7 linked regions of the Homo sapiens genome follow. The protein of the gene in region 6 purifies or fractionates together with the protein of the main gene of each other region. This does not show direct contact. Each region holds a gene or a part of one and is shown on either strand. Other genes may lie near its edges.

Region 1 (4,254 bases), on a different chromosome or scaffold from region 6:
TACCTTTCTGCAGGAATTATGTGTTCCGAGAACCAAAAGACCAACTTGAACAGAACAAAAATGGGAAACTCAACCAGCAAGGGCTAGGACTTTAATTAGCCATGTTACTGTTCACCTCAGAAATTTAGTGAATGCTTACAAAGGAGGGAGTGTTAGTCTTCAGAGTTTTCTGCCACCTCAGCCAACCCAAATGGCAGATTCTACGGCCTCTCCCAACTTTCTATAATGCTACCTTCACAGAGCTAGAAATGAGCTTTCCATGTCCATGTAGACTGTTTTTATTTGTCTCATTCAGGGATCTTTCCTTGTTCCAGGTTAAATCAAAGCCAAAGTAAGTTTCCATGGAGCAATAAAAGGCTTTTTTTTTTTGGATCCTAGACTTAGGATGAGAGACTCTCAGGTGTGAAAGAAGGGGGAAATAAAATGGAAGAAAGTGGCCGGGTGCTGCGGCTCACGCCTGTAATCCCAGCACTTTGGGAGGCTGAGGCGGGTGGATCACGAGGTCAGGAGATCGAGACCATCCTGGCTAACATGGTGAAACCCCGTCTCTACTAAAAACACAAAAAAATTAGCCAGGCGTGGCGGCGGGCGCCTGTAGTCCCAGCTACTCGAGAGGCTGAGGCAGGAGAATGGCGTGAACCCGGGAGGCGGAGCTTGCAGTGAGCAGAGATCGTGCCACTGCACTGCAGCCTGGGCTACAGAGGGAGACTCCGTCTCAAAAAAAATAAAAATAAAAAAAATTTAAAAAAAAAAGGAAGAAAGTTTCAAACAAGATTGGGAGGGAAACTCTGGAAACTCCTTCCATGAAAAATCCATATTGGAGTTCTTTCACTCACAAAATATCCATGGGAGTATTCAGTATGTGCCAGGCACTGTTTTAAGTACTAGGGTTATAGCAGTGAATTTTTTTTTTAATCCCTGCCTTCATGGAGTTTATATACTAGTGGGAGGACAGATGATGTTAAGTGCAATGGAGAAAAATAAAACAAAGAGCAATGGGGAGGAGGAGGTGATAGGAGGTTGCAATTTAAATACATAGTAGGCTAGGGAAGTCCTCACCGAAAACAGGCCTTTTAGGCCAAGTGAGGTGAGGGAGAGAACATTAGGATATCTGAGAGAAGAAATTTAAGGAACAGCAAGTTCAACGAATGGAAATGGCTCCTAGGCAGAGCTGGGAGTCTGAAGAAAAGCAAGGGCAATAAATTTCTCTCCGGTAAGTAATTCTAAGCAGTTCCTGCTCCAAGGCTTAATCTCTCCTTTATCTCCAAAGCCCTCACTCCAGGAGCCTTGTATTTTTCCACTGTCACATATAGAAACAGGTAAGACTCGCTGCCTCTTCTAGAAACAGTACCCAAGCATCCTAACTCACCTAGCTTTGACCATAGCTAAATGATGAATATGAGGCACAGATCTGAGGTTCAGAGAGACTGAACCTTAATCTTAATCTTCACTCTGCCCTGTTACCAGGTAAAATCGTGCATGCTGGACACCTGTTTCTCATCTGTAAAACAATAGTATGTTACCTCCCAGAGCTCTGTAATAATTGAAAGAAAGGACCAATGAACGGCAAATGATCTGCACTAAACAAATATTCGATTTCTCCTCTAACTCCCCTCAAAAATAGAAACCAAGATTGCTATCATTTTCCTCCAGGCCTGATGCTTTTGAGTTCAGAGGCAAGGAAAAGATTTGTCCCAGATGTTCGGCAAAGGTTCAGGAGCCCTGTCTCCTGTCATTCTTCAGGTGCCAGATTTCATCCTGTTCTCAGTAGGAGGAAAGGGGAAAAAGCCGGACTGAAGTGAAGATGCAAAGAAGGGGGAGCGGATCCAAGTGTCCCTAGGCCTGTCAGTACCAGGTGATGATGACATGTGGCCTTCTGCAGGCAAGCCCAGCTTCAGGAAACCCACATGGGCAAACACCCAAACTCCCCCAAGTTGACCAACTTCAGCTCAATTAATCGCATTATAAGAGGATTCCAGTGGCCTTGAATCCACGGATGCGTTTGTAGGAAGGAGTTCTGAAATCTCCACATGTCCCTCCTACAGCCGACTCAAACCCGATGGACAGTTTGGGGGTGCCTTCCCCGGATACTCACATCTCCCTTATGCAACTCCGGCGCCGCGATCTTCACGGGCTCTTTCCTCTTCTTTGGCTTGGGAAGCCCCAGCGGGGGACCGGCACCGCCAATTGGAGGGGGCAGATTGAGGCCAGGGCCTCGGGGCGAGGGCAACCCCAATCCCAGTCCCTCCCCAACTCCCGCCGCTTCAGCCGGGCTCACGCCTGGAGGTGGGGGGAAGCCTCCCAGGCCGAAGGGCAAGGGGGGAGGAGGCTGAAGCCTGGGGTCTCCGGTGGGTGGGGGAAGCAACAGCGGCGGGGGAAAGGCTGGCGCCAGCATCTGAGGGGGCGGAGGCAGCAAGGCCGGACCCTTGGGCGCAGGGAGAGAAGCGAACAAGCCCCCTAAAGCGGGCCCAGATGTAGGAGCCACCGCCTCCTCTTCCTCCGGCTCGGGCTCAGCCTCATCCGGCTCGCTCTCATCGCTGCTGGCGTAAGCAACCAGCGACATGGCGCCTCCCGCGTTTCGGGCGCCCTTGCCGGCAGATGAGGCCTACTTGAGACCGGGGATGCCCGGAGGCCTAGTAGGCCCCGCCACCTGGCGGGGCGGGGAACCGAAAAGTCCGCCTGCTCCGTACTCTAGGGCTAGCCCCGGCAGAAACTCATGGCTACGGCTGATTTCCACCGAACAAGGCGTACCTCTTCACTTAAGCTCCTAGTCCCGGGCAACTACACACAGCTAATGGCCGCCGAGTCACTCCGCCTCCTCCTTGCCTCACCAATACAGGAACTACAACTTCCAGAGAACACTTTGGACACAGCCCGGTTCTTTGCCGCAGGGATCTCAGCGCAAGGCACGGCGGGAGTTGGAGTCCGAGGAAGGATTTAGGGGCGAGCAAAGGGAGACAGGAGAGAAACCCGCCTCTGACGCAGGGACACCTGGGGTGAGTAGTTTTTTTCGTCGCCTAACAATTCCGAGGTGACTACAAGCCCCACCGGTCACCACGGCAGTCACTGAGACGGACAGGAGAGCATTTCGGTACTTGAAGTTCCCTAGGGTAGCCCCTTGGCCACTAAGATTTCTGGGAGATATGATGCTCTTAGAAACTGCAAGTGATGTCGGGAACGAAAGGGAGTCTGGGAAGCTGGCGGATTGAGGAAAATTGCTTAAAGGCAAAGTGATCTGTAAATGAACTGGTGAAGCTTCCCAGTCGGCTGGGACTGGGAATTAGAATAAAACATCCCAAAAAGAGCAAGGGCCCAAGGGACCCGTACGAAATTGGGCTGCAAGCCAGAAAGAAGCGAGGCTGCAGGTCTAATAATAAGCATCTAAGAGTTGAAATAAATGTGACGTAAAAGGGAGGAGGTGATCTCCCTCACCAGGATCGGGGTGCACATCCAGGAACACACCTTACCCTGGAGCCTGGGGCCTGGCCTCCCTCTGCAGCAACCAGTGAGACAAAGATGGGCAAGGCTCTGACAATCCGGGCCAGGTACTTGAGGTTAATCCCTTCTCAGCTCAGTGGGGTAAAGGGCGACCGTTCTGAGGAATCACTTGAGTCCGTCCTACCTGGCTGTGCCTCCCACCTATCCATTTGCAGATGTCCTTTACATTCCTTTACGTCTGTGAGTGCTGCTTCTTATGGCTTTGTATGTGACTTTCTTACATCTGTCTCTGTAAGTGCCCTTCCTTTCCATCCATGTTTATAGGAGTCCTTGTCCAGCCCATTTATGTCTGCTTGTGATGATCTGCTGTGCGCCAGTCCTTCCCTGTCCGCTTGTGATTTTGTATCCTTTTCTTGTTTACCCATCTCTGCCCCCTTCCTGTCTGCCTGTGACTGAGTGCCCTCTACTTGTCTGCCCTGTATGTGTGTGTCCTTTACATGCTAATTCATCTCTGTGTGGGCACCACCTCCCTGTTCCCAGATTGCAGAAAATTCTGTTGAGCGAAGCCAGAGAAAAGGCTGTTGAGGTTTTGGGAGGAGGCTGAAGAGAAAATTGGAAAGGTTGATGAGGAGGGACAATGATGACCACAATGCAGAGAGACAGTGAAAGGCCCAAGCTTGAATCCTCTATCAGACGAGCCTGATATGGGGCACCTCCTCCCCAACCTCTCCACCCTTCAGAGACAAACTCCATGCTGCCTTCTCCATGAAGGCTCCTTAGAGCAATCTGTGCTCAAACTTTAATGTGCATAAGCAT
Region 2 (3,500 bases), on a different chromosome or scaffold from region 6:
AGGACTTTAAGAAATGGTTATAAAATAGAGACCACAATAAACACTACAACTGCAAAAGAGAGAGAAGCAAAAATACTTCAAAGTGAATTCATTAAGACTTGGAGTGATTAACAATGCGGTAAGAGAAAAAACGGGCAATGGACCAAATGATCAGAAAGTCAGTAGTATCATTACTAGGAGCAGTAAAGTTGAGAGGCAGACTACTTTTGGAATAAACGGTACACACTAGAAACTGGTTTGATGTTGCCAATGAGACACATAAATAGAAATATGTTGTAAGAGCCATCGGCGTAGAGGTGACATTTGAGAAAACCAATGAATGAACTGAATGAGAGAAAACAGCCAAAGGTTACCTTTAAGAGCTAAGAGGAAAACAGCATAGGGAAAAAAAGAAAAAGACACAGTAAAACAAAAATATCAGAAGAAATGGCAGTCTAGGAAAAATAAAATTCCACAAAAAGAAAAATAAACATTTCCACAGCACCACAGTTTCCACCACAACAAAGATTTGTAAAAACTAAAAAAATGTATGGAGGAATAAGGTCTCAACTTGCCCTACTGAATGTCTTCTCTGTTTTCCTCACTCAGAACTAACCAGACTAATACATCTTTTGTTAGATTTGGTGGTGTTAACAGTGAAGTGCCAAAACAGTCTAACTACTCTTTGGAAGGTATAATTAGACATTTAAAGGGCACCAACAATATTTAAACATGTTAAGACTGCTTATGTTCCTGAGAACCAAAGAAGTAGAACCTAAAACCATGGCAGCCCTACCACAGCATCATCTTTTGAGATATACAAAGGAAACTCTTTAAATGTATCATACTATCATGAATTTTAAAAAGATGACCAGCAAAAACCTAGTCAAACAACATTCCACCAATTCTCCAGAACATCCAAGAAGTATAGCTGGAAAACTCACAGGTCTGTCCCGAGATTGGCACTAAATGTTTATAAGAATCTTTTCTAAAATTCAGAGCTGTTATTAGCCAGTAGTGACAGACTGAGATTCAATACAACCACTCTATTTTCCCTCAAAATTAGAAAAGTGAAGAAATGGGTGTAGAAAATGAAAATTAAGACCAGGCATGGTAATCCCAGCACTTTGGGAGGCTGAGGCAGGTGGATCATCTGAGGTCAGGAGTTCGAGACCAGCCTGACCAATATGATGAAACCCTGTCTCCACTAAAAATACAAAAATTAGCTGGGCATGGTGGCAGGTGCCTGTAATCCCGGCTCCTCAGGAGGCTGAGGCAGAATCGCTTGAACCCAGGAGGCGGACGTTGCAGTGAGCTGAGATCGCACCACTGCACTCCACCTGGGCAACACAGTGAAACTCCATCTCAAAAAAAAAAAAAAAAACCCAGAATTAAAATACAATTTTATAACTGGAAAAGACCTTAAGATCATCATCTACTGTCTTTTCTTTGTCTTTAGTGGAGTATACGCTTAAAGCACCTCCCCCGCAAAGGTCATTAAGAAGAAAGTCACTAGCTGAGAAAAAAAGATGAGAAAATAAAGATTTAGTATTACATCTCTCAATTTACTACACAGATATGAAAAAAATGAAAATATAGTTCCTACCTTTAATGCATCGTGAAAGACCGGAACACCTGGGTGGTATGTGCAAGCATCTGGAGAAAACAGAGAAAAAAAAAAAAGTACCACTCTTTATAATGAAGAAAAATATATACATGATCATCTCCTTAAGGTGTTAACCTTTAATCCTTTTTCCAAACGCAAGTACCTTAAAAAGGTACAAATGATTGAGTTTGACGTGCAGCACAAAGTGTACTATATTAAAATAGTATTAAAAATTCTAATTCAAGCATATGATGACTAAGGACAAAAATACAGAATTGTTTATGTATAACAATTATATTTTATATTCCCCTAATCTTGGTAGTAAAATTTGTTTAGTACCAAAACTTCAAACCCCCAAATTTTGACCATCATTTTTCAAACCTGCTTTTACAAATGTACTATCAAACTTGAAGTATTCTTATGTGCATTCATCCATAAAGGTTTCACAAGAGATTCCCTTAAAGACATTTTGTAATAACAGGCTCAACATTTTAAATACTGTAAAGATTTTTTGCAGTATCTAATTGGTAATTTAACTTTCCTAGACACAGTCATTCCTAGGTACAAACCTCACTAAAAAGAAGACTAGGGTGCCTCTGCCTGGCCCCTGCCCTGTTTGGGAAGTGAGGAGCTCCTCTGCCCTGCCCCCGCCCAGTCTGGGAACTGAGGAGTGCCTCTGCCTGGCGGCAGCCCTGTCTGGAAAGTGAGGAGCACCTCTGCCTGGCCACTGTGCAACCTTCCAAGTGTGAAGTGACAGCCTTGTGTGTGATCTTTCTGCCTTCCCCAAGTGTGCATTTTCAACATTAAAGTTTACTTTTTAATTAAAAAAAAAAAAAAAAATAGAAGTCTAGGTGGGCCTGGTGGCTCATGCCTGTAATCCCAGCACTTTGGGAGGCTGAGGTAGGCAGATCACCTGAGGTCAGGAGTACGAGACCAGCCTAACCAACATGGTGAAACCCCGTGTCTACTAAAAATACAAAAATTAGCCGGGCGTGGTAGTGCATGCCTGTAGTCTCAGCTACTCAGGATCTTGACAGGAGAATCGCTTGAACTTGGGAAGCAGAGTTTGCAGTGAGTCAAGATCATGCCACCGCACTACAGCCTAGGTGACAGAGCAAGACTCCATCTTAAAAAAAACAAACAAAAAAAACTCTCAAGTTCTACAGCCTATTTTCTAGATTCTCACTGGGTGTTATTCTATACTTCCCTCCCCACTACACCATCAATCTTTACTTCTCTTATGTAAATGGGTTTATTACAATTTGTGTTGGGAACAGGCCCCCAAATCTGGCCATAAACTGGCCCCAAAACTGGCCATCAACAAAATCTCTGCAGCACTGTGACATGCTCGTGACGGCTTTGATGCCCAGGCTAGAAGGTTGTGAGTCTACCTGAATGAGGGCAAGGAACAACTGTCCCACCCAGGGCGGAAAAACACTTAAGGCATTCTTAAACCACAAACAATAGCATGAGCCATATGTGCCTTAAGGACATGTTCATGCTGCAGATAACTAGCCAGAGCCCATCCCTTTATTTCCCGTAAGGAATACTTTTAGTAAATCTCCATTGGAGGCTCTCAGCTCTAAGGCTGTGAGACCCCTGATTTCCCACTCCTTACTATATATTTCTGTGTGTGTGTCTTTAATTCCTCTAGCACCACCGGGTTAGGGTCTCCACGACCAAGCTGCTCTCAGCAATTTGCAAGATGGAGTACTATATTTTTAAAAATCAGGTAACAGTCAGCTTCATCCCTCTGCAATCTGCTTAAAAGACTATCTTTCAACCTTTCAAGTCTATTTAGCTTTCAATGCTCTACAACAACCTTGTCCAACATGCCGCCCCAGACAACTCTGAATGTAGCCCAACACAAATTTCGTAAACTGTCTTAAAACATTATGAATTTTGTTTTTGTTTT
Region 3 (3,500 bases), on a different chromosome or scaffold from region 6:
TGTCCAAAATATAAGTAGATCATGGTAAGAAGCATTATTAGTGGTGAATATCTAAAATAGGAAAAAGGTAAAACATCTGACAGTCAGTACAACATATGATTATTGTAATTAATTGGATTTTTTTATTAATGGTATGATAAAATATTAATGAATTTCGATAACTTTTCATGTCAAGTGGAAGGAATGAAGGCCAGCTGAATGGTGAAACAAATACACCCATTGAAGGAAACCAGGCGGGTGATGCAGCTGCCTCTGCCAGGAGTCTACCAAATGAAGAAATAGTGCAGAAGATAGAGGAAGTACTTTCTGGGGTCTTAGATACAGAACTACGATATAAGCCAGGTAAGTTGGAGATAATTAACTGTCTCAAAAATTTTCTTTTAAGATTTTTTTGAAATTTGAAGGTTAATGTTAGTTTTTGACTTCAGTATTTAAGATATTTATTAAATTAAAAACTTTAGGCTGGGTGCGATGGCTCACGCCTGTAATCCCAGCACTTTGGGAGGCTGAGGTGGGTGGATCACCTGAGGTCAGGAGTTCCAGACCAACCTGGTCAACATGGAGAAACCCCCATCTCTACTGAAAATACAAAAATTAGCCGGGTGTGGTGGTGGGTGCCTGTAATCCCAGCTACTTGGGAAGCTGAGGCAGGAGAATCGCATGAACCCAGGAGGCGAATGTTGCAGTGCGCTGAGATTGCGCCATTGCACTCCAGCCTGGGCGACAAGAATGAAACTCCATCTCAAAAAAAAATTTTTTTTTCAGTAAATTTAAGCTTTTGTTTAATTGATTTAATGAAGACTTTCTTGTTTAAATTTTCCTTCCATACTTCCACTGGAAAACAAACATTGATGTACTTGTTTACTCTGCTGGTAGAATATAATTTTTATTTTTGACTTAGTTTCAGTTTATTTGATTCAGTTTCTTTTTCTTTTCTTTTCTTTTTTCTTTTTTTTGAGACAGTTTCACTCTTTTTGCCCAGCCTGGAGTGCAATGGCGTGATCTCGGCTCACCGCAACCTCCGCCTCCCAGGTTCAAGTGATTCTCCTGCCTCAGCCTCCCAAGTAGCTGGGATTACAGGCGCCTGCCACCATGCCCGGCTAATTTTTTTTTGTATTTTTAGTAGAAACGGGGTTTCACCGTGTTGGCCAGGGTGGTCTGGTCTCGATCTCTTGACCTCATGATCCGCACACCTTGGCCTCCCAAAGTGCTGGGATTACAGGCGTGAGCCACCGCGCCCGGCTTGATTAAGTTTCTTAGTATCAGGAATTTGAGTATGGATTTTTATTAAACAGTTGTGTAAAAATACCCATCCCACTTAAACTGCAGTGGATGGAGAGGAATCATTGCTTGAATATTTAGCGTTTTTGGAATTGATTAATTGATGTTTAGAAATGAAGGATTTAGCCACAAAAATAACAGTCATTACCTTGATTTAGTTCTGGAATCAAGTTTGTAATATGGTTGGTTTGTCCTCTTTTTTGGGGGGAACTTTAGCTGTGCTTAGATTCATGACTCTCAAACAGACTTGCTTAGATTCATGGCTCTAACAACCTTCATTGAAGTATGACTTATCTAACATTTTGTATTATGAAACAAACAATTAATAGAAAATGGTAAGTTTTGCTTTGGCCTATGTCAAGTGTTGATTTATTTTCTTCTGTAGTCTTTTTTTTTTTTTTTTTTTTTTTTTTTGAGACGGAGTCTCGCTCTGACGCCCAGGCTGGAGTGCAGTGGGGTGATCTCAGCTGACTGCAAGCTCCGCCTCCCGGGTTCACGCCATTGTCCTGCCTCAGCCTCCGGAGTAGCTGGGACTACAGGCGCACACCACCACGCCCGGCTAATTTTTTGTATTTTTTTTTTTTTTAGTAGAGACGGGGTTTTACCGTGTTAGCCAGGATGGTCTTGATCTCCTGGCCTCGTGATCCACACGTCTTGGCCTCCCAAAGTGCTGGGATTACAGGCGTGAGCCACAGTGCCCGGCCTTTTTTCTGTAGTCTTAATGGCTCAGATTTCTGATGAGCTTTTTTGGGGGTCCCTAAGATTTATCTAATTTGATATTGGCATTAGAGTAAATAAATCCCATCTGGTTGTTAAAGTTGAATACTCCCATCTCTTTAGGGTATGTAAATTCAAACCTTCTTAAGTTGTAAATTAAGGACTAAGAATTTCCTCTCTAAAATCAGTATTCTTTTCTAAAATAGAAACATTTGAAAAGTTATTTATTAGTGGTTTTAGAATAGTATTGGGGGAAAATGTTATCTCTTTAGGGTATGTAAATTCAAACTTTCTTAAGTTATAAGGACTAAGAATTTCCTCTCTAAAATCAGTATCCTTTTCTAAAACAGAAACATTTAAAAAGTTATTTTAGTGGTTTCAGAATAGTATTGGGGGAAAATATTATTTTTATTAGAATGTAACGTAGGCATGATAAGGTAAAATTTGAGTTCTCTATGAATATTTTATATTTGTTATTCAGATATTTTTATACTCTGTAGAAGCAATCACTAACCTTTGTTGAAAGCTTATTCTGTGCCAGGCATTATTTGATGTACTTTGCATGTTTTAACTCACTTTATCCTCTAACTCTAGAAGACACAAGTGTGTCAGTAATTTGGCCAAGACCATTAACCTAGTAAGTGATGAACTGATTGAGGATTCAAAAGTGGCAGTCTGTTCCAGAGCCAGTGCCATGTTGCTTCCTGTATAAACAAGGGTTAATAATCGCAAAAATTATATTATGTGGGTATTTTTAATAGAAACTGTAGCAACTAATAACATGAAATATATTCAGTGACAAAAGTAGTTTAAAAGTAATTTTGCTATGATTTGAGAGCTGGAGGGAATAATTATTTTAATAGAATTTAGTGAAACATGTCTTAATGTAATTCAAAGTAAGTTTTGGTGTTTAATAATTTATTTTTAACCCAGGCATTAGTTGTGGAAAGAATTATCAGAAAAGTAGTAGTCTCCAGGTTAACTGTTTTATGAAAAATAGTTTATTTGGTAACTTTTAATTTAACGTGAGGTGTTATACTGTGGGGTTTTTTTTTTTTTTTGAGACAGAGTCTTGCTCTGTTGCCTAGGCTGGAGTACAGTGGTGCAATTTCAGCTCACTGAAACCTCGACCTACTGGGTTCAAGTGATCCGCCTCAGCCTCCCAAATAGCTGGGACTACAGGTGCGCGTCACCATGCCTGGCTAATTTTTGTATTTTTAGTAGAGATGGGGTTTCACCATGCTGGCCAGGCTGGTTTTGAACTCCTGACCTCATGATCCACCTGCCTTGGCCTCTCAGAGTGCTAAGATTACAGGCGTGAGCCACTGTACTTGGCCTGTACTAAGGTGTTTTAACATGGAATGTAAATATGGGTTTATATGATTTAATCTAACTCTACTTTGGGGAATGTCTGACAAAATTAATTTCTATTACTTTTAGACTTGAAAGAGGGCTCCAGAAAAAGTAGATGCGTATCTGTACAAACAGATCCTACTGATGAA
Region 4 (3,500 bases), on a different chromosome or scaffold from region 6:
GGACCTGAGACATAGAAGATGACTGAATGGAAGAGGTCAATGTGGAAATCAACATAAAAAGGGATGCGGGGGAGCTGATGTCATTCATTTACCTAAAAGAAATAGTGTACTTCTGGAAAAGGGTCAGACTAATTGGAAAAATCAGCCACAGTCAAATGAATTCAATTAAAAAAAAAATCAAATTAGCCCTGGTCAAATAAATCCAAGTTAAAAGGAAACAGTCTTTAGTCTGAAAAATAATATTTTAGTCTGAAAGAGTCTAATATTTAGGTAGCATAACACTACTACAGTTCAGTGGATGAAATGGAAGGTTCTAAGTAGGTTAATTTATAGCACAGTTATTTAGGAAATAGTCCTGATTATATAAATTTATACTTGAATAATTTCTTAACCAAATACAAGCCCCATATTGATACGAGATGCTAGGTGGAAAGCTGTTCCAGGACTATAGTCATAAGCAAACTAAGTCACTTACAGATCTTTTTTTAAAAAGCCATGCACTAATATGCAATGATGTTCCCGGTTACCTTGCTTGTTGTTTTGGATGTTTTCCTGCCAGGGTTATAATCGCCTTCATTTTCAGAGCCAGATGCTTTCCTTTTCTTTGCCCCTCGGCCTTTACCTTAAAATGATACAAAAGGTTTTTTCTTCCGTGGTTAAGTGCAATATAAAAAGATAAATGCCACAACATTGTAGTTTATTTCTTTGGCATGCCCAATCAGTGGAGCATTGCAGTCCTGATCTCTTACTATGAGTGATTATAAACAATTTGGCAGTAGCATTTCAATTCTGGGGTTGACATGACCAAAGACTTTTTGACAAATACATTTAAACTAGTGGGAAAGTCCCAAAGACAAATTTTAATGATGAATCCCTTCATACATAAAACATTTGTATTTGCTATTTGGTCCTTGAGCCTGAAAAGGAAATATCTTGGAAGAGTACTTCTTAAATTACATGGGATTTAAATATTTTTTTTCATTTCTAATTTGTCATGGGCCAATACTTTTAAAAATACCATAGAACACAAATTACTAAAAAATGTAATCACATGCTGTTTTAGTAACACATTATTATAAAGGTCTAAATGTTTACTCCGTTTTACTTATCAAAGACTAGTAACAACCAATTGCATATCCCACATTAAGTGGCACCATATGAGAACCACCAGTATTAACTATAAAATGTCAAATACATATTCCTTCTCAGACCTAGACTCAGCACATGCAGCATTTTTTTTCACCTACCTAACCTCTTATTCTCATCATTGGAGGTGGAAGGAGAAAAGGTAATATTTAAGTAGGGGCCAGATGTTCTCCATCCCACAATGATGCCAATGAAATAAAACAACTAAATAGCAATTTTATATCTTTAAAATCCCTTGACAGCTAGACTGGACAAGTACGAAGATAGACTTAAATAATCTTGGGATGTCATATTTGATCAAATGAATCAGGGAAATAGCATTTTTGAATTTATAAAGGCTTTCAATCCTGCATATCTTGAGTACTACTTTCCCAGTCACTGTGATTCTTTTCCACCCTATTATCCCCATTTCCCTGTAGGTCTACAGCTCCTTATCCCAACCACTCCTTAAAGAAATATAAGAAACACACTGAGGAAGATATCCTTCAGTTGAATAAAAGGTAGAGCAGCTACCCTCACAGCATGAGCTACCCTCATATCATGTCTTACAAACATATTTTACAAAACATCTTCAAGGGCTTTCCAGATTCTGGAGTTAAAGAGGGGATGCCATGGAGAACTGGTGCTGTTCCTTGTGTGGCCCTGAATACAGTTATTTCTTAGGTGAGAAAAAAAGTTCTAGCCTAAGAGTCCTGGATCTAGCCCATTACTATAAGTGTCACAGTTAGTGTGGAGTACTGATCTGACTTTTTAATAACAACTTTCAGTGAGTTGGCTGCAGGGGAGAATTTGGACCATTCTTAGGGATTCTTATTTAACCTCTTTGAGCCTCAATTTTTTAATTTGTAAAACAAAGTGACTGAACTAAATTGCTATGCCTCCTTTGGACTATATTCAGCACTGATTCCTAGACACACTGCTTACTGAGGAGTAAAGCAATTTAAAACAAAATAGATACCTAGCCTCTCTAAATTCAATGAGGTAGAAAAAATTCAATCTTTTCCACACAGCATATGTTTAAAGGGTTATAAGAAGATAATCCTCACCTTTTGGTGTTGTAGTCTTCTTTGGAATGCCAAATTCTGAATCCGAGTCAGAGTTTACAGCCTCTACTACTTTCTTCTGTTTTGGGGCTCTCTTGGGCTTAGGGACTGTATCTGAAGACGGTTTTCCTAGTAAGCAAATTTCCATTTCACAGGTCAATATACTTACCAACAAACCAAACTGAAGAGAGTCCTATATAAATGGAATTTCTTATAGCTGATTAGAAACTGAGTTGCCTGGCTGGGCGTGGTGGCTCACACCTGTAATGCCAGCACTCTGGGAGGCCAAGGCGGGGTGGATCACCTGAGGTCAGCAGTTCAAGACCAGCCTGGCCAATACGGTAAAACCCCATCTCTACTAAAAATAAAAAAATTAGCCAGGTGTGGTGGCAGATGCCTGTAATCCCAGCTACTTGGGAGGCTGAGGCAGGACAATCGCTTGAACCCGGGAGGTCGCAGTGAGCTGAGATTGCGCCACTGCACTCCAGTTGAGCAACAAGAGCAAAACTCTATCTTCAAAAAAAAAAATTGAGTCGCCTTAAATAATGAAATGGTTTCTCTCTGCTTGGCGGCAATGTAAAGGCAAACAATTTCTCATAGATGACAAAATGCTTTTTATTTAATTATGTATAATTTGCCCTTAGGTAATACAATTAAGACATTTTAAGGAAGAGCCATTAAAATAAATTAAGCAGTAACTTTTAAATACAGAATAGTCATGACAAAAGAGTAGCATATTTGATAAATTAATTATAACCCAGATATAACCACAGATTAAGTCCTAACTTTTAGAATGTTTTAGAGAAAAAAATGTATGGGATCCTCGAATACAATGAATAGAAACCAACTCACTTCCATTCAAAAGCTGAAATCCAGACTTGGCATTTTTATGTGGAAAGAAATATAAAATCCTAGATAAGTAGACAATTGATACCAGGCCTTTGCTTTCTGGAATTTTGAAAAATAGACCTTGTTTTACAGCTTTATCTGCAGTTCTATGTGAAAACTGATAAATAAGGCCAGTTGCAGTGGCTTACACCTGTAATCCCAGAACTTTGGGAGGCCAAGGCAGGCGGATCACTGGAGGTCAGGAGTTCGAGACCAGCCTGCCCAACATGGTGAAACCCCATCTCTACTAAAAATACAAAAAATTAGCCCAGTGAGGTGGCGTGTGCCTGTAGTCGCAGCTACTTGGGAGGATGAGGCAGAGGAATCGCTTGAACCCAGGCAAGGGAGGTTGCCGTGAGCCAAGATCACGCTACTCCACTCTAGCCTTGGTGACAGAGCAAGACTCTGTCTCAAAAAAAAAAA
Region 5 (3,500 bases), on a different chromosome or scaffold from region 6:
AGCTGTACAATAGTGGGTAAGTCACCGGCCTTTGGGCTCAGTTTTCTCATCCATCAAATGGACATTAATGATTTCTACAATGAGAGCTCTTAACCCATGTTCTGGGGGTACTTACCCCTGAAGTTTTCTGCCAGTGTGCGCGTGTGCCCGCAGGTGCACACATTCCCAAGCATCTGTTCAGTTCCCGAGTATGGGTGAGGTCTTTCCCTTTCATTAGTTCTCAGCAGCTATGGCTTCTTGAAGACAGAACCTGGGCTCTAAATAAATAGTTCCAGCTCCGGCATTCCTGGTCCTTGACTGGGAGGGGCCCACCCCAGACTTGAGAACTGCCTCCCTGTGTGGTTGTGGCACCATGGACACTCCTGACTTTCTCGGGGCCCCAATCTTCTGGTGACATAGCTGCTATTCAGACTTTCATTAAGAGAAATGTTTTTCTCTTTGCACATGAAATCTACTGTCGAAACTCAGCAAAACCCCCTAGGATCCCGAGGGTTGTGTGTGAGGCAGGAGATGCTGTGTTTTTTGAGGAATCCCTGAGCTTCCTCCAAGCAGTTTAAAAATCCCTGGGTGGGTGATTCTTCAGGGAGGTTCCGTGTGTCTGCGACATCTGGTGAGTCCAGGTGTGGACAATATTTTAAAGTTCCGGTTTCATTCCAGTTTAATAGTTTCAAAAAGATACTTAAGCGTTCAGAGCACATTCTTGTTTGAATGACTCATTAGGATTTTTTAAACTTGAGTTCAGGTAGAAGACACCCTGGGCTGGGTTCAGTGACTGCCCTGGCTTGGTTCTGGTCCATAAGCAGAGACTGCCTGGTTCTCCTTTATCCCCAGAGGCAACTTTGACCCTGTTTCCTTTTCTGTAAAATGGGGACAGTGATGCTTCTTTTATAGGGTTGTCGGGAAGGCCACATAAGAGAGTGGGGTCAAGCTGGCCTGGCACCTGCCAAAGCAGGAGCTAGATAGATAGTGGTTATCTCTCCCTCTTCTCCTATAAATGACCAGCTGTGTTTTTGATGGAGCAGAAAGTTCAAGCAAGAAGACAGGGTGAGAATTGTTACCCAGCTAAGTCAAAGGGGCTTTGGGGGTTCCATCTGGCACCTCAGCTTTCAGACTGGGGGCCCGGGGTTCAGGCCACTGCCTGATTTCATGTCAGCTCATGCATGGTGTCTGGCATCTTGGAGCCTCCTCTTCTGAACTGTTCTTGTTTTCTTTTTGTTTCCCAGATGTTTGAGACGGAGGCAGATGAGAAGAGGGAGATGGCCTTGGAGGAAGGGAAGGGGCCTGGTGCCGAGGATTCCCCACCCAGCAAGGAGCCCTCTCCTGGCCAGGAGCTTCCTCCAGGACAAGACCTTCCACCCAACAAGGACTCCCCTTCTGGGCAGGAACCCGCTCCCAGCCAAGAACCACTGTCCAGCAAAGACTCAGCTACCTCTGAAGGATCCCCTCCAGGCCCAGATGCTCCGCCCAGCAAGGATGTGCCACCATGCCAGGAACCCCCTCCAGCCCAAGACCTCTCACCCTGCCAGGACCTACCTGCTGGTCAAGAACCCCTGCCTCACCAGGACCCTCTACTCACCAAAGACCTCCCTGCCATCCAGGAATCCCCCACCCGGGACCTTCCACCCTGTCAAGATCTGCCTCCTAGCCAGGTCTCCCTGCCAGCCAAGGCCCTTACTGAGGACACCATGAGCTCCGGGGACCTACTAGCAGCTACTGGGGACCCACCTGCGGCCCCCAGGCCAGCCTTCGTGATCCCTGAGGTCCGGCTGGATAGCACCTACAGCCAGAAGGCAGGGGCAGAGCAGGGCTGCTCGGGAGATGAGGAGGATGCAGAAGAGGCCGAGGAGGTGGAGGAGGGGGAGGAAGGGGAGGAGGACGAGGATGAGGACACCAGCGATGACAACTACGGAGAGCGCAGTGAGGCCAAGCGCAGCAGCATGATCGAGACGGGCCAGGGGGCTGAGGGTGGCCTCTCACTGCGTGTGCAGAACTCGCTGCGGCGCCGGACGCACAGCGAGGGCAGCCTGCTGCAGGAGCCCCGAGGGCCCTGCTTTGCCTCCGACACCACCTTGCACTGCTCAGACGGTGAGGGCGCCGCCTCCACCTGGGGCATGCCTTCGCCCAGCACCCTCAAGAAAGAGCTGGGCCGCAATGGTGGCTCCATGCACCACCTTTCCCTCTTCTTCACAGGACACAGGAAGGTGAGAAAGCTAAAGGGGGAGGGAGAAGGATACATGCAATGTGGGGAGGGCTGGCCCAGGGGCTGCAGGGAATGAGAAGTCACCATGTTCCACCCCCACTATCCTGGCAGCCTCCCAGCGAACTTTCCACCTGTTGGACAGAAGATAAAACTGAGGCCCAATGGGACCAAGAAGGCAGAGCATGGACTTAAACACATGACTTTAGGATTCCAGATGCTGTGTTCTTATAGCTCCACTGGTCCCCACAGAAAGCAGAGCAGGTGTAGCTTAGCCCAGGCCATTGTGTATTTGGATTTAAAAGATCTGAGATAGTAGCTGGAGAAATAGAGTTACAGCCTAGCCAGACTAGAAATCCATCAGCCAGTCACAATGACAACACACATTTATTCCGTGTCCACATTATCCTAAGCAGTTTACATTAACTCATTAACTCTCACAACAGCCCTTTGAAGTAGATAGTATTTTTGTGCCCATTTTACAGCAGAGGAAACCGAGGCAAAGAGAGGTTATCTAACTTGCTCCAGGTTACACAGTGTATCAGTGTCTGAACTAGAATTAGAATCTGGTTCCAGGGCCAGTGCTCTTAACCAACCACCACACCGTTTGCCTCTCGTGAATATTTATATGTAGATGAATAAGTATTTATGGATTTCCTGCTGTGTACCAGGCCCTGCGCTCTGCAACATGGCAGGAGCCACAGAAGTGTGTGAGGCTGGTCTCAACCTGAGAGAAATAAGTTAACTGTGTGAGCCTTGAAAGTGGCCTAACAGTGAACAGATTGCGCCATGATCTTGAAGCCTACCAGCTAGTTTGGGTCTGGGCTCTGTTTCTTACTATGTGGCTTTGGTTGAGTCACTCAACTCCTCTGAGCCATAGTTTTCTTCTCTGAAAAGTAGGGGTTAATAGCACTCACATCCCAGAATGGTTGAGGATGAATGGAAGAGGCTGGTGCCTGATAACACTAGCCGCTTGAGAGGCGGCCCTCAGGGAATGCTGGGCCCCACTCCTTCTCTTGAAATGCAACAGCCAGTGCAAGGTGTTGGTGTGAGGCTAGGTGAGTAGGGGTGCTCAGTGCCCATGGAGCACAACTGACTCAGAGATCTAGAACTTCAGGAGGACAGACCCCAGGGCCTAAAGCCATCAGGGAAAGCTTCTGGAGGAAGATACCTCTCAGCTTGGCCTTGAAGGATGAACAGGATTAGAATAAACAGAGAGGTAGAGGCAAGCATTCTTTGGCTAGAGCAGAGCATTCCTAAAGGGCAGATGCCTGGCACAGGTGCTGCTATTCCTCCCTCCAAC
Region 6 (3,500 bases):
TAAATTTGCCACATTGAGACCTCAAACCATGGTGGCAACACTGTTTATTTCATGAAGCAGGGAAAATCCTTATGAATGAAGAACTAAGGAGTAAAATCACTGTTAGCTTATATAGGACTTAAAATGGCTTTTCAACTAAGACATTTCTACATGAAATTTAGTACTTCATAATGGCTATAGTTGTGTGTACTTCACAAACTTAAAGATTACTAAAGTATGCACATAAAGGTAACAGTAAGCAACAACAACAAAAAAGGAATCAGAAGTATCAAGGTACTGACCCATGTCCTGAAGGAGCAATGAAGTATAAACAACACTGCACCCTGTTATCAGGCATCTGACGTCTGTTCACTCGTGATTCTGCATTTAGGTAGTCCTCAAATTTACTATCAATGTAGTCGATAACAGGCTGCCAGCTATAGAACGCAAATAAACAAAACAAGCTGCAATTCTACATATGAATTAACTGATGACTGTTAAAGGACAATAATCAGTATTTTCAAATGGGCAAAATGAATTTACCAGTAGAAGATATGTCAAGTTATTCTATATATTCAAAAATATAAATTATGTTGAATAAATATTCATTATTCAAAACTTTCCAAATGAAAGAAAATAAACTATTTACTGTCGAAACACAGCTAAATATTAGCATATTATTTGCACTAATAAGTGTATTAATAACACACTTCATAATATGAAAACAATTATATGCAGTTTAAAATTTCAAATGAGAGATTACTTTAAATAATAAAAAAACTTCATGGTGAACTTGGGAGTTTTAAGAGTTGACAGAAAATTACCTCAAAAACAATGTGAATTCAAACAAAAATAAAAGTATTATTTATAAAATACTAAGATAATTACTTCAGACTAAAATTTCATAGTTGTTTTCTTCACTTAGGACTTACAGAAAAACTGAAAGTCTAAATATCAGGTTTAAATTAGGATTGAGATAGAATTTATACAAATGAATAAAATTAAAGTGAACAGTTTTAAATTTCTTACAATAATGAGAATTCTTCTATTTACCTATGTTATTTTAGAATATGTCTTAAAAACAATTTTATGATAGGTATTATCTCCATTTTATAGAAAAGTAAATGGGTTCAAAGAAGTTAAACAACTTTGTCAGATAAGTGGCAAAGTTGGTATACAAACCCAAGTCATGTTGCTTGAAGTTTGGTGACCTTTGCTAAGATGAGAAGTTTTAAAATGTTAAGAAGAAAAAGTTTAACCACCCCAGTACCCCAAATGCACTGCAAAGTTGTGAGGACAAACCCTTCTTACCAATTACTATTATCCACTGCATCTCCAAATCCTGGGGTATCAACTATTGTGAGCAGCAACTGAACACCACCTTCTTTGATTAAAACTTTGGATTGTTCCACCTGTAAGAGTAATTGGTGCAGATGTTAATATCATACATTACATCAGTGATTTCCTACAAGGGGTGATGGTAGGGACGTTCGAGTTTATCAAAACCAACTGGGAAACTGTTAGCAAACTAAATCTACCTACTACCACATTACCTTTAGAATTGATGATAGCGGGCATTGGAAATCCAGATTATTTGAAAGAAAAGCATATATACAAATAGTCTGCCAATCTCTTGGCAAATTCATACTGGGTTTATGACTCATACTTGGTATAAAGACAGACAGAGGAACTGATAAAATAGTGATCACCACTAAAGACATGTAATACTTATATAACTTAAATGTGCATCTAATAATACAAATAAGCAGTTTGAGTGATTTAATAATTCACAGAGTTCAAATGTAATTAATCAGAGAAGAACATCTAATCTACCATTTACAGTAAATGTCTTCCTGGACTATTCTCTATCAAGTTTGGCCCCAACCACTCACTCAAATAAACTTACTATCATTCCTTAATCTTTCTCAGCATGGATGTATTACCCTTGTATTTATGTTATGGCTAGGATCCAATCCTTTTCTCAAATGTGATACTCCACATTCTGGACAATGTAATCAGCAAAAGTCCAGACAGTTTTTATTTTAAAAAAAAGTGTATTCTGGTAGGGTGAAACCTTACTAACTGATTATTGGACTTAAATGATAACAACAGTTCCTGGAACAATTTAAGACATTCTGTAATCTCAAGCTCTGTATCAGAAGATGTATTATCATTCATCCTGGGCATATGCTGCTGTTAAATGCAAAATATCAGTTTTCAGGAACCCAAGATAAAGCAAACACGGATTCAAATGAAAAGGGAATAATTCCTCCAGAAAAAGACAGGCTTTCTCCTGATAACACATTTAATAAGGATAACAAGTCCTTATTAAGGCTAGAGGCTCCAAGTATGCTGATAAGCTAATTTACAAGACAAAAAGTTTGGGACACTTTTAGAGATAGCCTACTTCCTTTTGGCATGTTTTATAGATGCTACCTGATGCATGAAGAGACTAACATGCGGAGACTAAGATTGCTGAGCAAGAAAAGTCTGTAGCCACACTATCCAATAACACTTTCTGAGATGATGGAATTGTTGTGTATCCACACTGCATCTCCAAATCCTAGGGTATCAACTATTATGAGCAGCAACTGAACACCACCTTCCACTTGTCCATGTGGCTACTTAGTCCTTGAAATCTGACTACTGCAAATGAGGAGCTGATATTTAATTTTATTTAATTTGAATTAACTTAAATAGCCACATATGGCTAGTGACTACCGAATACACAGCAGAGGTCTACAGCAATCAAGAGTTTTCTGTTAAAAAAATTTTATTATGAGGAATAAAACTTATTAAAACTGAAAAAAATTGCCTGAGATGTGGACACACATGACTTATCTTTTAGAGAAATGAGATGCCAAATTCTTATCTTTTAATGTTCTTTAAACTGCTTTGATCCTGATATAAACTATCAAGTGAAAATTTTGCAGATCCAAAAGATATTTATCCACCAAATATATACTATTGGCAATCTGAATATTAAGTATTAATATGCATTATCATTAATCTGTAGATTAAAAAAGTAAACATCAATAACAGTTGTAATATTTTCTGATCATCCTCAGTATCAATGATTGATGCACATCATTTAGGAGATCACTGTCACATACCACACAACTAAGATAACATGTCTATTATCAGGTTACCCTAATAACATGAGAGAGGCAAAATAACTCAGAGAAAACAATCAGATTCATCAGTGTGAGATCATGAGAACCAAAGGAAAAACATTTTTTTTTTTTTTTTTTTTTAGTCAGGGTCTCACTCTGTTGCTCAGGCTGGAGTGCATGGCAGATTATAGCTTACTGCAGCCTCACTCCTGGGTTCAAGCGATCTTCCCATTTCAGCCTCCCAAAGTGCTGGGCCAAAAAAAATGTTTAATGGTATCATCTCATCTAGTTTAGGAGGTTTACATTTTATCTGGTGATCTTCTAGCCAAAGGACAACCCAGTCAAATCTAACATCTCAATATCTTGAATTCACTTCCATCTCCTTTATAAAGACAGATCATTTATTCA
Region 7 (3,500 bases), on a different chromosome or scaffold from region 6:
ACGATTGCAAGCTGTTTATGACCTGTAAAATGGTTTGGTACGCATCCCCTCAGGCTTCGTTTATGTACTTACTTGTGTATTGTGTTTCTGAAAAAATCGAACCATACATGCTCATCTTTTTGGCAATTCAGAGCATTCTATTGAATGGAAGGTGTGTCAACATTACAATTTTTTCTAGCTGATAGACACAGTGTGGTTCCAGTTATCCTTGTATGTCATGTTATGAATATGTGAATTTTTCTTAGAATAAATTCATAGAAGGAAAGATGCCAAGTTGCTTTTCGCCAGCACGAGTGCTTGTTTACCTACTTAATTCTAAGGTTGAAATTTTTTCTTTTGCATTCTTTCCTACCCATTCCCAAAAATACTTGTAGTACTTGCTGTAATTTTGTAATTTCTAAGCAGTGTTTGGTCTAATCATTATGTACTTTTCTTGTTAGTGACATTTTGGCTAGTATACAGCTCCCTTTTTAAACAACTTTGATTTTATGACAACTTTTCCAAAGTTTAAAACTTTTTTTTTTCCCTAGGCAAATCCTGATCCTAACTGTTGTCTTGGAGTATTTGGGCTGAGCTTGTACACCACAGAAAGAGATCTAAGAGAAGTGTTCTCTAAATATGGTCCCATTGCCGATGTGTCTATTGTATATGACCAGCAGTCTAGGCGTTCAAGAGGATTTGCCTTTGTATATTTTGAAAATGTAGATGATGCCAAGGAAGTAAGTAAAAGCCCGTTCCTTTGTAAACCATCAGTTCTATTGTTAACGCCAAGTTATCAGTGACCAATTGCTAGGATAAGGACAAGGACAAGTCAGTAATACTTCGAACTTTTTCTCCAACCTCTTGTGGAGACTCAAGATACATGCAGAATAACAAAATTTTGTATAACTTGGGGAAGTTGGTCCTACCACCTGCTTTATTAGTTGCCACCTATTGGGGTCAACTATACCCCAATTCCGCCAGGATATGTAGTCAGTGTTTACACTGGGTTCACATTCTAGAGTCAAAAATAACCAAAAGCAAAGTTATGATGCAGAAGGAAAACATTGTTCCTTTTTTGGCTAGTGAATGATGTCATATTTGGATTTTGATTTGTTTTGAGGCAGAATATAGAGTCAAGATTTGAAATGTGGGGCTAGACCCCATTTAAGAAATTCAGATTTTAGGTACATTAAGGATGGTAGCTAAAGTCATCTCCAAGTATAGAGAAGAGGAAGAACTGAGAAACACTTAATGACAAACGGAGTTTCACTCTTCTTGCCTGGGCTGGAGTGCAATGGCGCGATCTCCGGCTCACCGCAACCTCCGCCTCCTGGGTTCAAGCAATTCTCCTGCCTCAGCCTCCTGAGCAGGTGGGATTACAGGCTACCACACCCAGCTAATTTTGTATTTTTAGTAGAGACGGGGTTTCTCCATGTTGGGTCAGGGTGGTCTCGAACTCCCAACCTCAGGTGATCTGCCCCCCTCGGCCTCCCAAAGTGCTGGGGGATTACAGGTGTGAGCCACCATGCGCGGCCGCCCATTTCCTAATTAAATTTTTGCAGTAGGATCATAGCTCTCGGAAAATAGCATAAATTTTATCTTAATCTCTAGTGCCAGAAACTGCCTGGGCGTAAACACTAGCTTGAACATCTGAACTAGAAGATAGCATAGTATTGGAATTAGAAACTTAAATTCTATTTAGGTGAAAGGATGTTTCCTCAAATTATGAACAAACTTTAATGTGTTTGAAACGGGGTATTTTTATTTTTTAAATGTATGCTGTTAATACATACTTTGGGAAAAGGAACTATATGTACTTAAGGCTGTGCTTCAGTCTTAGCTTTTGGCTTCCAGAGAAGGGCTAAGAAAACTTCCAAGGGTTAAATAATGTGTTCAGGTTTCAGTCATAGGATCTCAGTCGCAACTATTTAACTCTGTTGTTTTAACCCAACAGCAGCCAGATGAATGAGTTGGGGCCCTATTCCAATAAAAGATTATTTTGGGGCATTGGAATTTGGATTTTGTGTGTTTCTTCACTTGTCATGAAATACTGTTTTTCCCCCTAGTTATTTAAATTTTTAGCTTATGGGTTATACAGAAACAGCCAGCTGGCCAGATTTGACCTACAGGCTATAGTTTGCCAATTGTGTGCTGCTTTGGAGCTGGAAATACTGTCAGGATCATAGTTAGGTAAAATAATTGTTTCAAGTTTTTATGAGTAGCTTTTACAAATGAACATTTAGTAGAGGGAACAACACATTTGTAAGTTGTAGACCTTACGTTCTGGCTAACATTAAGATAACTTAATGCACCTAACTGAAATGTCCAGTGGGATCTTACTCATAGCCACAGGATAATTAGTGGCTTTGTTCAGGATGTATGTAACAATTTATTTACCTTTTGAAGGCTAAAGAACGTGCCAATGGAATGGAGCTTGATGGGCGTAGGATCAGAGTTGATTTCTCTATAACAAAAAGACCACATACGCCAACACCAGGAATTTACATGGGGAGACCTACCTAGTAAGTTTATTTTCAAAATAAATATAATTGGCAGTTTTTCACTTGTCAAAGAAACACTTGTATTAGTGGAAAGTCTTCAGCACTTAGGTTTGTGCCATAAACTTGACTGTTGATTGATTAAATGCTCCTCATTAGGGCATTTTTCTCATAGTAGAAGTTCAACCATTACAGGTAAAACTAAATCTTAGTCAAGTCCATTTTTAAATTTTTTGTTTGTTGTTGTTTGGTTTTGTTTTTGTTTTGTTTTGAGACGGAGTCTTGCTCTGTCGCCCAGGCTGGAGTGCGATGGTGCAATCTCAGTTCACTGCAACCTTCGCCTCCTGGGTTCAAGCAGTTCTCCTGCCTCAGCCTCCCGAGTAGCTGGGACTACAGGCGCGTGTCGCAACGTCCGGCTAATTTTTTGCATTTTTAGTAGAGGCAGGTTTTCACCATGTTAGCCAGGATGTTCTCGATCTCCTGACCTCATGATCTGCCCGCCTCGGCCTCCCAAAGAGCTGGGATTACAGGCGTGAGTTGCTGCACCCGGCCTAAATTTTCTTAAATAGAGCAAAGTGATACTATTTTTGTTTCCTCTTAGAAATATGTGGGATATGCAGATTGACCTCTGGCAGGATCTGTGTGCCTCCTTAACCAAAGATTTTTAAAAATAGGTTTATATATATTGAAACAAGGGAAAGGGCAATGTTTGCTCAATATAGGTGAGAATTTTAACAGGAATAATTTTCATTTTCCAGTTAATGTGTCAGAAAAGGCCTACTAGTAGATATAAAAACTCATGTCCAGAAAGATAAGGGAGGTCACCTGAATATTTTTTTCTTCATAGTGGCAGCTCTCGCCGTCGGGATTACTATGACAGAGGATATGATCGGGGCTATGATGATCGGGACTACTATAGCAGATCATACAGGTAAGTTATGAGGTAGAAAGGTCAACGTCTGAATCTCAGTACAGTGTACAGAGCAGCACTATGCTTAAGTTTTAGCCTTTGTTAAAAGC

What was found.
Region 1: the proteins of SEPTIN7 (region 6) and PRCC purify together in Homo sapiens (affinity purification with mass spectrometry, with the first as the bait; one large-scale study listed by BioGRID). This does not show direct contact.
Region 2: the proteins of SEPTIN7 (region 6) and CHORDC1 purify together in Homo sapiens (affinity purification with mass spectrometry, with the first as the bait; one large-scale study listed by BioGRID). This does not show direct contact.
Region 3: the proteins of SEPTIN7 (region 6) and SON fractionate together in Homo sapiens (co-fractionation; one large-scale study listed by BioGRID). This does not show direct contact.
Region 4: the proteins of SEPTIN7 (region 6) and TOP2B fractionate together in Homo sapiens (co-fractionation; one large-scale study listed by BioGRID). This does not show direct contact.
Region 5: the proteins of SEPTIN7 (region 6) and RGS3 purify together in Homo sapiens (co-immunoprecipitation; one large-scale study listed by IntAct). This does not show direct contact.
Region 7: the proteins of SEPTIN7 (region 6) and TRA2B fractionate together in Homo sapiens (co-fractionation; one large-scale study listed by BioGRID). This does not show direct contact.

Annotation. Positions count from the first base shown.
Region 1 is NC_000001.11:156,766,081-156,770,334, reverse strand, and holds the start of PRCC (proline-rich protein PRCC), read right to left. Parts: upstream 2,801-4,254; 5' UTR 2,564-2,800; coding exon 2,096-2,563; intron 1-2,095. UniProt on the Homo sapiens protein: May regulate cell cycle progression through interaction with MAD2L2.
Region 2 is NC_000011.10:90,216,550-90,220,049, forward strand, and holds part of CHORDC1 (cysteine and histidine-rich domain-containing protein 1), read right to left. Parts: intron 1,636-3,500; coding exon 1,586-1,635; intron 1-1,585. UniProt on the Homo sapiens protein: Regulates centrosome duplication, probably by inhibiting the kinase activity of ROCK2. Proposed to act as co-chaperone for HSP90. May play a role in the regulation of NOD1 via a HSP90 chaperone complex. In vitro, has intrinsic chaperone activity.
Region 3 is NC_000021.9:33,546,038-33,549,537, forward strand, and holds part of SON (protein SON), read left to right. Parts: intron 1-175; coding exon 176-342; intron 343-3,438; coding exon 3,439-3,500. UniProt on the Homo sapiens protein: RNA-binding protein that acts as a mRNA splicing cofactor by promoting efficient splicing of transcripts that possess weak splice sites.
Region 4 is NC_000003.12:25,598,908-25,602,407, forward strand, and holds part of TOP2B (DNA topoisomerase 2-beta), read right to left. Parts: intron 2,319-3,500; coding exon 2,193-2,318; intron 623-2,192; coding exon 528-622; intron 1-527. UniProt on the Homo sapiens protein: Key decatenating enzyme that alters DNA topology by binding to two double-stranded DNA molecules, generating a double-stranded break in one of the strands, passing the intact strand through the broken strand, and religating the broken strand.
Region 5 is NC_000009.12:113,582,227-113,585,726, forward strand, and holds part of RGS3 (regulator of G-protein signaling 3), read left to right. Parts: exon of another isoform or gene 1-16; intron 17-1,223; coding exon 1,224-2,201; intron 2,202-3,500. UniProt on the Homo sapiens protein: Down-regulates signaling from heterotrimeric G-proteins by increasing the GTPase activity of the alpha subunits, thereby driving them into their inactive GDP-bound form.
Region 6 is NC_000007.14:35,870,557-35,874,056, reverse strand, and holds part of SEPTIN7 (septin-7), read right to left. Parts: intron 1,392-3,500; coding exon 1,291-1,391; intron 417-1,290; coding exon 282-416; intron 1-281.
Region 7 is NC_000003.12:185,921,015-185,924,514, reverse strand, and holds part of TRA2B (transformer-2 protein homolog beta), read left to right. Parts: intron 1-530; coding exon 531-719; intron 720-2,388; coding exon 2,389-2,504; intron 2,505-3,327; coding exon 3,328-3,411; intron 3,412-3,500. UniProt on the Homo sapiens protein: Sequence-specific RNA-binding protein which participates in the control of pre-mRNA splicing. Can either activate or suppress exon inclusion. Acts additively with RBMX to promote exon 7 inclusion of the survival motor neuron SMN2.